3 separate regions of the Homo sapiens genome follow, and all the other regions are linked to region 2. Evidence: fine-mapped expression QTL. A gene starts in region 2. Each other region holds a variant in brackets. All regions are shown on one strand. Distances are between the middles of the regions.

Evidence for each region. PIP is the estimated chance that this variant, and not a neighbour inherited with it, causes the effect. A credible set is the group of variants that fine-mapping cannot tell apart.
Region 1: its variant is the best candidate, but not a certain one, in a credible set for the expression of NTRK3 in nasal epithelium (TOPMed, PIP 0.88).
Region 3: its variant is the best candidate, but not a certain one, in a credible set for the expression of NTRK3 in atrial appendage (GTEx, PIP 0.59).

Annotation. Positions count from the first base shown.
Region 1 is chr15:87,973,893-87,978,077 of GRCh38, forward strand. All of the region lies in intron 14 of NTRK3 (neurotrophic receptor tyrosine kinase 3), which reads right to left. Among named protein-coding and RNA genes, the nearest start is that of MIR11181, 30 kb to the left of the region's middle. The variant C/T (reference allele first, on the strand shown) is at 2,093.
Region 2 is chr15:88,254,911-88,259,095 of GRCh38, forward strand. NTRK3 (neurotrophic receptor tyrosine kinase 3) reads right to left here and starts at 1,829. Exons shown (of 20, transcript NM_001012338.3): 1 at 1,734-1,829; 2 at 1,374-1,576; 3 at 996-1,258. The coding sequence starts at 1,243. All of the region lies in intron 1 of NTRK3-AS1 (NTRK3 antisense RNA 1), which reads left to right. RefSeq lists enhancers at 1-510, 511-1,047, 3,388-3,682.
Region 3 is chr15:88,130,036-88,134,220 of GRCh38, forward strand. The region is part of intron 10 of NTRK3 (neurotrophic receptor tyrosine kinase 3); the gene reads right to left. Among named protein-coding and RNA genes, the nearest start is that of NTRK3-AS1, 120 kb to the right of the region's middle. The variant G/A (reference allele first, on the strand shown) is at 1,724.

The DNA.
Region 1 (4,185 bases), 280 kb before region 2:
GCAATGTGCGAGTCTAGCCAGAGCACAGGAGTCAGTAAACCCTGAAGGAACAAAGGCTCCGGCTCTTTGCCTAATCCATGTCTGGCTCCGTGCAGAAAGCTACACAACAATGAAGTCGTCCTGCATTGATCTGCCCGCTCCTGAGCTTTCCCGCGGCATCCAACCCTCCCTTGCTGCCTCACCATTGTATCTGAGATGCTTGATCCTTTGCTCATGCCTGGTCTTGACCTGAGGGAACTGGGACGAGCCAGGGGATGTGTCACAGCCCAGTGCTGTGCTGCGGTCACACCTGTGGCTGGGGAGGTGGAGGTGAGGATGTGGCTGCTGGGAGCTTGGCTGCAGAAAGGGATTCCCGCACAAAAGAAGAGACAGAGGTGGCTAGAGGTCAGATTCTTGACTTCCAAATTGAGCCTGATTTGTGTTTGGTCTTTTTAGGGTGAGCATTGCATGGCTGAGCTTGGACATATCAGGAGGTCTTTGAGGTGCGTTGAAGAAAGGTTAAGTGACAGTGGGTAGTCAGACAAGGCCCTTTCTTCTACTACCTTCCTGTCTGAAGCTGCTCACCCTTGCCCAGACCTGGGCAGCCTAACCTGATATCCTAAGGATCAGGTTGGTCTCATCCTTTCTTCTACCACCTTCCTATCTGAAGCTTCTCACCCTTGCCCAGACCTGGGCAGCCTAACTGCTATCCTAAGGATCAGGTTGGTCTCATCCAACTGTATGATGAGTCCTCCCCAATATCAAAAAGGCCATCATTGCTTGGGAATCTCACCAACTGTAAGACATGTGATTAATCTCAGATCTAAGCCCAACCATGCTTTCATACACCCCCAAGTCACTAAATGCTACAATGAGAGGAAAGAACGTTGCAGATGTTCTTTTCCAGTCTTTAAAATCACCCTGTCCCAAAAGTTCCAGAAGGAAGTCAGGGATGGTGCTCATCCCTGAAGACCCCTGAAAGACTTCTCTGTCTTAGGAGTGGAGTGGGGTTGGAGGGGGGAGCACCTAGGTGGTGTTTCACAATCATAGCCTTCCAGGAGCAGAAGATGTGCTACTTTAGGGGGCTGCAGAGTGGCCAAAAGCATTTTGAGGTGTCAGGCAGTCCCCCTGTCAGTCCTGGTTCTGCCAGTTTCAAGCTGTGGAAACCTGAGCTAGTTATTCAATCTTTCTGAGCTTCAGCTTCCTTGTGGGTAAAATCTGACTGGTTCTGAGTAAGTGCTTCATAAGTTACATAGAATTATTACTATTAATGCCCCACAGTAAACCCATTCTTGGGAGGTTGGCAACCAGTTCCAGGACCTCATCATGTAATGCTAGTAAAAAAGTCCAGCCTCTCCAGGGCATGTCCCTGGAATGTGTTAGATCGAATTTCACCTTGTTTCTACAAGATCTTATTGGTACAGTTGAGTTTCTCATTCTCTGAGCTTCAGAACCAGCACCTGTCAACCAAGTCTCTAGAATGAAGATCCAGGGAGCGCCTGGCAAGCACCCTGGGTTCGTGAACTGAGTCAGCTGTCAATCTGTGCAGCAAAATCCCGCAGGATCAAAATGTAAGCTTAAGGTCTGACAAAGCTACTGTGAAATCCTGTTGGTGACATTCGAATGCAGGAGGTCAGGGAGCTGCAGGACTGGCTGGTTCCCTGAGCCACCCTAAGCTGAGGCCAGTCCAAACTGGCATCTTTCTGGGCTGAGTTCAGCTCTCCGCATCTGCCCTATACCAGCTCTGACTTCCCTAGAGGCACCAACCCTGGGGTAAATGCCATGAGACTTCAACACCTAGCAGTAAAACATGGAAAACGGAGGCCTAGACTCCAATCGCAGCTGGTTCCTCATTCTGCCCAGCAACCTTTCCATAGATCCCCATAGTCGTCCATAGTCTCTTCCCCGTCAATTCAGATGTTCCAACTCTCCTTGGGTCTTCTCACTAGCAGCACAAGGCCTTGCCTCATTCTTTATAGGAAAAATGGAAGCCACCAGACAAGAACTCCCTCACTTCCTTGCCCTATCACCTTGAAAAGACATTCCACATCCTTTCCTCTTTTTGCCTCCTGCTCTATGGGAAGAGCACTCCCTCCATGAGGCCAATGCTATC[C/T]CTTCCTCCTGAGCTGTGGATACTTTTCCTTCCCATATTCTCAGGGGCCATCTTTATCTATTATCTCTTCTCCCATACACTGATAGGCTCCAAGCATCAGAAAAAAAGAAAGCTCAAATCTCTCCTATATTAAAAATGAAAGTTCTCCCTCGAACCAGTGCATGTCCTCATGGTCCCCAGGACAGCCTCAACCCTTCAGGCATCCCTGTTCCAACTCTTTCTCCTTGGAACCCTCAAGAAGAGATAAATGCCGAGCTTGGTCTACCCCTCACCCAGGCCACTCTAGAGAGCAGGAGCTTCCATTTGGCATAAGGGGGTCTCAAACCAAACTAGACTTAAATAGAAGATAAAGCAACTGAGGGTATATAGAAAAGCACCAACCTAGCCTGATCAACTTCCTGTCAGACTGGAACGTGAGCTCTTCCACATTACTTTACTTGTCTCATCTCTACTGCCTCAATGACTGAGCTCCATCAGGGATTACTGGGGCCCAGTGAAGCATTCAGATCCACCCAGGAGCCTTTTCCCGGCCCGCATTCTCCACTCTTGCTCCATCTCTCCTGCATACAGGGCCTCACGGTGTCCTCTCCTCCTGAAAGGAAGAGGGCAAGTTACAGGGAGCATTTCAACTCTTCTAGCTGTGTCACTGCCAGGGTCCAAGGGTGCACAGATGTGCCAGTTCATCTAAGCATTTTACTCTTTGGCCTCTCCCTCCTGGCAGCCCACATGAAACTTGCCATGAGAGTGTGGCTCACCTGAGTGTGTGCATGAAAGGGAGTGTGTCTCTGAATGACAAGTGTGTTGACCTGTACGCCCAAAGCCCCGTCTTTCCTTGGGCAAGGTCACTTTCCCAACATCCACAGGGAACATACAAAACCACTCCATCCTAGGGACAGCCCCACTGGCTTTGCTGGTGCACCAAAGATAAAGGATCCCCAACCCCACTCTCAGACCCCCATATATCAGCTCTCAAGAGAAGATTTCTGTGAGCCTTGGCTGCTCAGACAACAGAACATTCCCCAGCTACCAAAGGAGTGAGGGTCTCAGTGGCCTGAGTAGTGTCTGTAGAAGTCAGATTTGAATCTTGCTTTCACCTCTCACACTGTGTGACCCTGGATGAACCATTCAACCTCTCTGAGCCTCTAATTCTTTCTCAATACGATGAAAAAGCACTTTACTGTATGAGCCTAAGCTATCTGGAAGACTCTCAATGAAAGCAACCAATGGAACAGATTGTGAACACCTTTGTAAACAAAGAACTTAACTAAGAAACTTCTTTAAAAGAGTAACAGGAAAACAGGAAAAAATGCAGGTAACCTGGAATTTCTGTATTTTGAATGTTTTTGCAAAATTTCCAAATAAGAGGTCTGATTCAGTCATTTCATTAGAAAATAAAGTGTTTATTAAGAAACTATACACTGAACACTCCTATAAGTCTCTGTGGAAACACAACGCCCCATTGTCATAGCACAAGGTGAGGAAAATGGCAGAATAAAAGATGCTGGGATGGATGGAGCCTGGGAGGCTGGAAATGAGGTAATGATTTACAATAATTAAAAAACATCATCCTCAAGCTTACTCCTTAAAGCCACACTTGGGAGGAGGCCCTGGACCCAAAGCATCAGCAGGGCACAATGGGGAACAGCCTGACATGGAGCAATGGGGAGCAGGATGAGGAGAGCTGGAGGGGGCGAGATAAACACACACCTGGAGCCCTGGAGAGAACCTGAACTCCCAGGTGATACTCTGGAGGCTGCCCCAGATACTGGGCAAGAACTTGGAAAGCCTCATGTTTTTAAACCCCATGGAGGCATTTGCAGAATCGGGCTGGGATCCTGACACGAAGAACCACCATCCACAGGACCCAAGAAGTAAAACCCTTAAGTGGGAATCCAAACTCCCAGTTAAATTTGCCAAAGGCATAGACTCTATTCTCTACTAGTGTGCAACACCACCCCAAAACAACGGTGGGTTAAAACAACCACCTTTTTCCCCCACAAGCCCCCCACAGGATGCTCCCAGTTTCATGCTCTCCACCATTAGGTGGGCAGCCTATGCTGACTTCATACAATGGAGGCCCCATGGGCCAGTGG
Region 2 (4,185 bases):
ACGAAAGAAAAGAGGAGCAGACTCTCCAGTCCCCAGCCCTCGATCTGTCCTCTCCTTTGCGTCTGCTGCCATCCCCACCAAAGAAAAATAGCAAGGAGAAAAGAGCAGGCCACCACTGGTCTCCCTCGGAGGGGGCAGAACCAAGCAAAAGCCAGCCAGAGTTGAATGTTCCAAATGAACCGATCCGCACGATCACACAAGAAACCCCTCTCCTCAAAACACACGCCCTCTCCTCTCCCTGCGCCATCCTGACTCGGAATAGTTCCGAGCAGTTATCAAAGCCCAAACTGGGAAGGGATCTGTAGGCGCCCAGATGCAGATGAGGGTGGCAAAGGGGTGTCTCGGAAATGCCCAAAATGGGGCTGGAGAGGGCGGGCTGCAGGAGGGGAAGGGAAGAGGTAGGCGTCCATGACGGCCTCCACACGTCCAAAGTCTCCCCGCGAGCAGCCAGCTCGCAACTTGTTTACTTGTCAGCATGTTTTGCTGTTTCCAAATGGAAATAGTTAAACACCTCGGCTGGATCGCGAGCAGTCCCTATCTGTCACCTTCCCTGCCGGCTAAGCGCTGCCGCCGCTGCCACCGCCGCTGCCGCCTCTGCCAAAGAATCGAACCTCGTCTACTTTATTCCACTTGAGCGTGGCCAAACTGTTGCTATTTAGTGGGGAGCAAAAAAAAACAATTTGCACCATCGAAACGAGCCAGCAACTGGTTGGGAGGCGGGCGGTAGCTGGGCCCCGCGTGCCCTCGGCGGCCGGGGTCCTCTCCGGGGAGAGGCACACACACGCATAGCCGGATCGCGCCTCGCCAGGGCCGGAGTCACCTGGAATGCGCAGCCGGAGAGCATCTCCCGAGCCAGAGCGAGCCTGACGCGCGCCCAGCGGGCGGCGGGCAGCGGCGAGCTGGGGCGGGCGGAGGGCCGGCTCCCGGCCGCGGGTGGGCAGGAGGGAGACGCAGAGCGCGGGGGAGGCAGGCTGGGGAGCGGCCGCCTGACTTACATGGAAGTGATATTCCTTGAGATGTCCGTGATGTTGATACTGGCGTTCCCATTGCTGTTCCCTGAATCCTGCCCTTCCAGGAGGGGGAAGAGGTTCCCATCGTCCGGCCGCCGGCAATTGATCTCAGTCTTGCTGCAGACACAATTTGCAGGGCAAGCCAGCACGGAGCCCACATAGTCCAGCCAGACGCTTCCCAGCAAGAAAATCCGCCAGAAACTACACTTGGCTGGGCAAAGAGAGACATCCATCTCCGATCGCTGCTTCTAAAAAAGAGGAGGAGGAGAGGAGAGGGGGGTGGGGTGGGGGGAGTGGGGAGAGCAGGGGGGGAAGGAAACAAAGACGGCGAGGGAGGGGGGAAGGGGGAGGGGGGGCCTCTGCCTTTGAAACGCCGAGCGATCAGATGCAAAATCCTTCAGCGTCTGAAACCATCGCGGACGCCGCCGCCGCCGCCGCCGCCGCCGGGTGGGAGCCGCGAGGAGCGCCTAGTGGCGCGGTCTGCCGGGCATGGTGGCCGGCTCGGCGATCGCTGACTCGCCGGGTCCGGGGGCTCTGGAAGCGAGGCGCGCTCTCCGACTCCGAGACTTTGCAGGGTTGCAACAGACGGTGGGGAGGCAAAAAAAAAAAAGGAAAAGGAAAAAATGGTGCTAAAGTCACCAAGTCCCACCTACTGGGCAGAATTAAAACGGACACACCACGCACCTGCAAAACACACACACTCACTCTCACACATACACACACCCGGAGCCCGAGGAAAGGAAGAGAAGGAAGATGCAGTAGGAGCTGCAGCAGCCGCCGCGAATGGCTCGCCGCGCGGCTGCAGAAATGTACAAGTGCTCCGAGCCTTACGAAACGCACGGGTTATCGGAGCGTCTTCCTCGGCTCCCTCCCTCCCTTCCTCCCTCCCTCCTCCCCTCCCTCGTCGCGGCCTCCTCCCCCCGCCCCCCGCCCGGGCTGGGAGCGGCAGGAGAGCGGAATCTCCCCCTCCCTCCCCTCCCCACACCCGTCTCTCTCCCCGCCTGTCCTCTCCCTCCTCCCCACCCACCCACCCACCCACTCGCCGGCTCGCGGCTGTAGCCGGCACCGCCACCCGCAGCCTCGCGGCAGCCCGCCCGCTCCACGCCTCGCAGCGCGGCGCCCGCTAGCCGCAGCCCGGGGGAAACCGAGACCGAAGGGAAAAAGTTGCATTTGAGATTGCGAGGGTCGGGGCTGGGGAGGGAGAGTTGGCGAGCTGGCTGCACGACACGGAAAGGCGCTCTCCTTTCCACTTTTTGGCCCTCGCGCTACCCGGTTTTGCTGCAATCCGGACCGCGGTAGGAAGTGAAATGAACGTGGCGGAGGTGATTGGGGAGTGCTCCCAAGCCTTGGGTGGGGGGCGCTCCCAAGCCTGGGTGGGTGGGGGGCGCAGGCTCACGGACGGCGACGGGGGGTGCCGGAGCGCACAGACACCCCAGAGAAGCACCCAGAGCCGGGGACCGGGACCGCAGACGCGCAGTCCTTGGTCTGAATGACACTCATTTCCGTAATCTAGAGTCTGGGGCTCTGGTCTTGGCTGGGAGGGGACTGCGGGACATGGCACGCTAGGTGCCCCCCGTGCCCGCTGCGCTTTCTTGGAGGTGGGTTTTGCATTCGGCCTTGAGCAGGCATGGATCGGGGAAGGAAGAAACAGGGGTCGAAAGGGCTGCGCTGGAGAGCCGAGGTGGCCCCGGGCGAGCTGTGCGTGCAAGAGAAATGGCCGGGGGAAATTGAGATGCAAGGGGCATATTTTGGCAAGCGCCACGCCAGCACCGTCAGAGGCCGGCTTCTCGGGCTCAGCTCTCGGGTGAGCTGAGCTGGCTGCCGGGTGAGGGGGCGGGCGGGCTGCTTTCTCCGGATTCGGGGGCGCAGAACCTCCTCCTTCCCTCCCACACAAGCACCCCTTCCTGGTAGGGACGCAAAGCAGGTGCAGCTTTCGACGAGAGCTCAGATCTCATCCGGGAAAGAAGTGTGTGTGGGGGGGGCCCCGCTTTTGCGCTGGTAGGGATTTTTTTCTTAATAAAACATAAAGATGCCAAGTGTGAGCTGTTTGCTGAAAAAAAAAAAAACGAGCATTCGCTGTGGGAAAGGAGAAGAAAGGGTTAGGGGAGTCCGAGCAGGCAGACACACTACAGCATTCACACGCAGAAGAAAGCAGGGTTCTCCTTCCCGAGCTTGGAGGAGGGCAGGCGAGGAAGCAAAATACATTGAATTCAATTCAACTGCATCCAGTATCTGAAAGGAGTCTCCCCCGCCCCCCTGTGGATTCCGATGCAGGTCATGCAACTTGCAGGCAAGATGGGGGAAGGGGTATGCCGGTGTCACCGCCTGCCCCAGGCGCAACCACAAACAGGCCGGTCGCCTTCGGGTGGCACTGTCGCTTGGAGTAAAAACTTGGACGAAAAAAATGGAAGAAAAGAACATGCCTATACAAGGCAGTTTTCCCGACTTCCCGTCACGTTCCACCTTCCCTTGGCCCCAGGGAGATTTTTACCCCCGTCGCCATTATGGCCTTGTCTCCAGACTGGCATTTTGCCCTCCCACCAGCAGGCGGGGACAGAGTGTGAAGACCTCCTTGGACTCTCAAACCACTTGCTACTGGCCCTAGGCCAATCCTGGCTGTCCTTAGGCCACTGGGAATTTCCCTGTCACTTCAAGTGCCATTCTGGGATTGGCTTTAGAATATCTGAGAGTCAGGAAACTGAGGTGTAGTCAGATCCTAACACTTGGCCTCTCTTGGGAGGTGGCAGGTGGCAGCAGAGAAACACAGCCTCTCTCAGACCACTCCTGGGCAGGGAACGCCAAGTGGATTCAGCCCAGCATCAGTGCTCCAGCCTGGAACTGAAATGGTTGTGTCCAAAAGATGCCCAGCCCACTTTTTTGAGAGAGAGAGAGAGAGAGAAAGAAAGAGAGAGAGAGAGGATTTTTAACATGTCAAGCAGAGAAGAAGAGACATCCATAAGTTAGAACAACAAAAACAACAACAACAAAAAACCTTTAAAAACCCCTCTGGATTTGGTAAAAATGCAGATTGTGGAGCAAGGGGCCCTGATGGGCAAGAAGTCTTTCATCCTGACAGTAAAATGGGATTAAGATGGGGTGCTACGTTTATGCTCACACTCTGGGCCTGAGCAGGAAGCGACAGCTGAAAAAGAGGGAAGCCCTTTCAAAAGCAGGT
Region 3 (4,185 bases), 120 kb before region 2:
GCCAAGCAGACAGGCCTCAGGAGAAACCATCCCTGCCAACACCTTTATCTCAGGCTTCCAGCCTCCAGAATTGTGAGGAAATAAATTTCTGTTGTTTAAGCCACCCAGTCTATGGTATTTCACTGCTGTGACATTCCTAGCAAACGAATACATGAATTACCAGCCATAGAACAAAATAAATATCCATGAGTCCATATTGATACAAATAAACAATTCAATAAATAAAAGGTGGAAGAATGAAATGCTCTTCCTTACAAGAGAATTCTGATTTTTAAATGTAGAAGGAATGATAAAAATAGAAAAATCACCATTTCACAAATATTACAGTAATAATTGTTTCAGGCAAGAATCATCAATGAATGTTAGAGTGTGAAAGAAGGATGAGAAACAAGCTATTTATGTAGTTTAAAAATATTATACTGATTTCTTACAAAGGGGAAAATCATCTGTTTGCAGCAGAGAAACCTGGCAGACACCACCTTGACCAAGTAATAAAGTCAACACCCCCAGTACCAAAACCTATCGACATCACGCGCCCCCGAAACGATGCACTGAGAGGGCAGAGCATCACTTCTGCAGAGTTCCTGCCAAAAATGCATAGCTAGAAATTAATCATTAAGAAAAAAATCAGAAAATTCCAAATGGAAAGACAGTCTACAAAAAAACTAGTATTCTTGCAAAGTTCCAAGATCATGAAAGACAAAGACTAGGGAACTGTCCCAGATTTAAAGAGAGTGAGATGACACAGGAACTCAACGCAGTGTGTAATTCTGAATTGGATCCTAGACAAGGAAAAAGCATCAATGGGACAAGTGATGAAATGTAATTCACATCTGTACACTAGATAATAGTGATGGACCAATGTTAACAACCTGGTTTCGATCATTGCATCGTGGTTAGGTAAGATGTTAACATCTGGGGAAGCTGGACAAAGGGTGGAAGGAAGTGCCTTGTATGATTTTGTAACTTTTTAAAATATGAATTCCAAACTATTTCAAAATGAAAAGTTAAAAATCTTTAAAAATTAAAAAGAAACACAGATTACTAGTCCTCACCTTAGAGTTTCTAATTCAGTAGACCTGGGGTGGGTATCAAGATTTTGCATTTCTAACAAGTTTTCAGCAGACGCTGATGCTGCTGTTCCCTTTGGAATGCACTATATCAATACTACACAGCCTCCTGCCTCAGCCCACCATGCCCTGAAAAGTAAAAGTGTATTCATTCATTCATTCACCCATTCATTCACTCATTGCGGGCCCTCACAGTCTTAGCTCTATTAAGTATGAACCAGCAGATATTCTCTAACTACTTGTGGGGAATCGGATACTTTCTGTGATGGAGTCCTTCAAAGAAAGCCTTACTTATGGTACACGCAGTTCGGTTGCTTGTTTGTTGTCTGTTCTGTATTGTTTTGGGGGATGGTCACAGAACTATCTTCACATTCCTGGGCATACCCTTCGTGCCAACACCCTCTTCTCAACAGCAGGTGACCAGAAGCCTGACTGGGGCAGGGGGAGGATGGAGGAAATGGAAGCTCTAGCCTGGGTTTCAGAGCCTGAGAGAAGAGAGGTGCCAGATCAATTCGCAGTTTACATTCATTTGCATATGTCTCATAAGGCTCCCATTTATTAGAGAATATTCTCACGTTAGCCAAATGTTTTGGTCAAGTCTGTGAACCCTGTTATCTCCAAATCAGCCTATGAGTGTTTAAGGCCTTTGCCAG[G/A]GCCTGGAAGCATTTATACATCCAGAAAGCACATAAGCTTTGGAAGAAGGAGACATCCTGACTCCTCTCTAACCTGTGGGAGGGTTCAGGCATTCAGCCTGGAAGAGGATGGTACCCAGGACTGGTCCTCACCTCTGACTGCACCAGCAGGCTGGGAGGAGCGCTTGTCCAGCACACCAAGGAACAATCTGGACATGAACTGGGGCTGTGCCATGAAGGGAATACACATGTCTCCTACAGTCCCAGACCATAACTCTTCAAGAAGCGCCCCTTCTGTAAATTAATCTTCACCACAACCTTTAAGGTAAAAGCAGGAAGGTGAAGCAATTTGCCTGACGTCACAGAGCTGACAAGTGATTGAGTCAGAGTCAGAGCCCTGGCAACGTGGTTCCATGACAACTAGCCTAGACTACCTTAACATTATCTGTTAGAACTTACTAGGTTGACCAGAAAATGACTACTGGTTCTAGAACTCTTGAATTCATCTCAGCTCTACATCCTAAGAATCTTAACAATGGCCCACAGCTAGTAAGCCTTTTCTCTGTCCAGACGCACTGCTATGCACTTGGCAGGCATAACTTCCTTTAAGTCTCATGGTAGCTTAGATGGGAGATATTATCATTCCCATTTCATGGATACAGAAATAGAGGCACAGAGAAGTGATTGTCCTCCATCTAGTACTGGCCTTGCACTAAGCCCCATGCTAGGAGCCCAGGCCACCAGATGGGAGGGCTATCTGGGAGGGGCCACAGATGGGACCTGCACCTAAGTCTGTCTGATTTCAGACTGCCTGCTCTTAGCCTCCATGCTTAGCTGCCTGGAAGCAAAAGAGAAACACACATGATAATCACGATGTCTCCACACTTTCACATCAAAAGAGAAGAGCAAGAATCACAGACCAGCTTTGCATCTAGGCTTAGCTGGGGTGAGTTCGGTTTAGAGGGCTATGACTCATCTCTTCCTGCACCCCCAGATAATTGACTCTCTTGAGCGTTTAAGCATCTTGTCACTTGGCATCGTTTCCCTGTCACTGCCTTTTCATCACCCATTGATCCCTTTAACCTAGACTCACAAAACAAGCAAATCTTCCCACAGGGTGACCCTAGCAGGATGGAGATGGGTCTGAGGAAATGACCTCAGGTGAGGTGCTTTCTCTTTGAGTTTCTCTGTGACTCTATCCTCCCTCCATCCTCCTGGGGCCAGATTCCCACTCAATTCCAGGGTAGTAGATTGCAAAGGAGGGAGTACTGGAGTCACCTGGGGGCTTGTTAAAACATAGCTGCTAGACCCCACCCTGGAATCTCTGATTCCGTAGATGTGAGTGGCGCTTGAGAACTTAAGTTTTAACACATTCTCAGGTGAGGTGGATGGGGCTGGTCCATGGACCAAAGGTCACTTTTGAGAACCACTGGCCTGAGGAGCACTGATAACTGACTATGGTGACAAGGGTATCCAGAGACTAACAGAAGGGGCTGCTGCATCTCGTGGGGGCAGAGGAGGTATCTCTGAGATAGCTCTGAGGGCTGAGAAGACGCAAAGTATTGCTTCCTCCTGAGACAAAGGAGAGAACGGAGAAGCTGTATCCACCACATCATCCAACTGCTGCTGCTACCCCACACCTCTCAGGATACCCCTGGCAGAAGGAGCCAGAGTGTCTTCTCCTCCCTCCTGAGCATTCTAGGGTTCCCCCCTCCCTAGGCCCCAGAAGCTTCTCTTTGGAAACAGAAACATTGCTTCAGGGTGCTTCATTTCCTCACCAATCAAGACTTTCCCTCAACAATGTATAGACTTTCCTCTTTAAAAACAGAATTTATTCTCTAATCAGGCCACAGGCAGGGCAACGTTTCAGTCTTTTATGTCAACAAGACCTAGCCTGCCCTTGTAGACCATAAGAGCAAAATATCTCTGCTCTAAAAGCCTCTTCTTCCACTGTGCAGGCCAGGACTCATCTACCTGCTGAAAGAGAGCACAGTGTGACCCAGGAGGGGAAGTGTCATGGGGGCTTTTACTGAGCATTCTGGGGATGATGGAAGTTTCAGACTACATGGGATTTCCAGGGCCTCAAACATCTGCACATTCTCAACTGCCTCCGAAAAGACGGCTCCATCATCCCTGGGACCTCAACGGCAAGAATTTAGCTTAATGCAGCCACATTTCTCCGACTTTACTCTCAGGGCCTCCAGTACGAGTTCCCTTGCACTGACATAAATAAAGCTTCCTGGAGCTGCCACACCCTGGTAATTTGTAGACTGTGAAGTTGACTTCATAAAAACAGATGCTACATACTGCTAGCTCTTTCTGCCTTTTCCCTTTGTGCACGTGTGTGAGCATGCATGTGCATGTGTGTATGTGTCTTATCAGTTTTTACACTGTATCCCATTAGAACTCCTGATTCCTAGGGATTGAAGACCAAAGGTCTCCTAGTCACTTCCCAAAATGAAGCACCAAGCTCAGCAAAGACA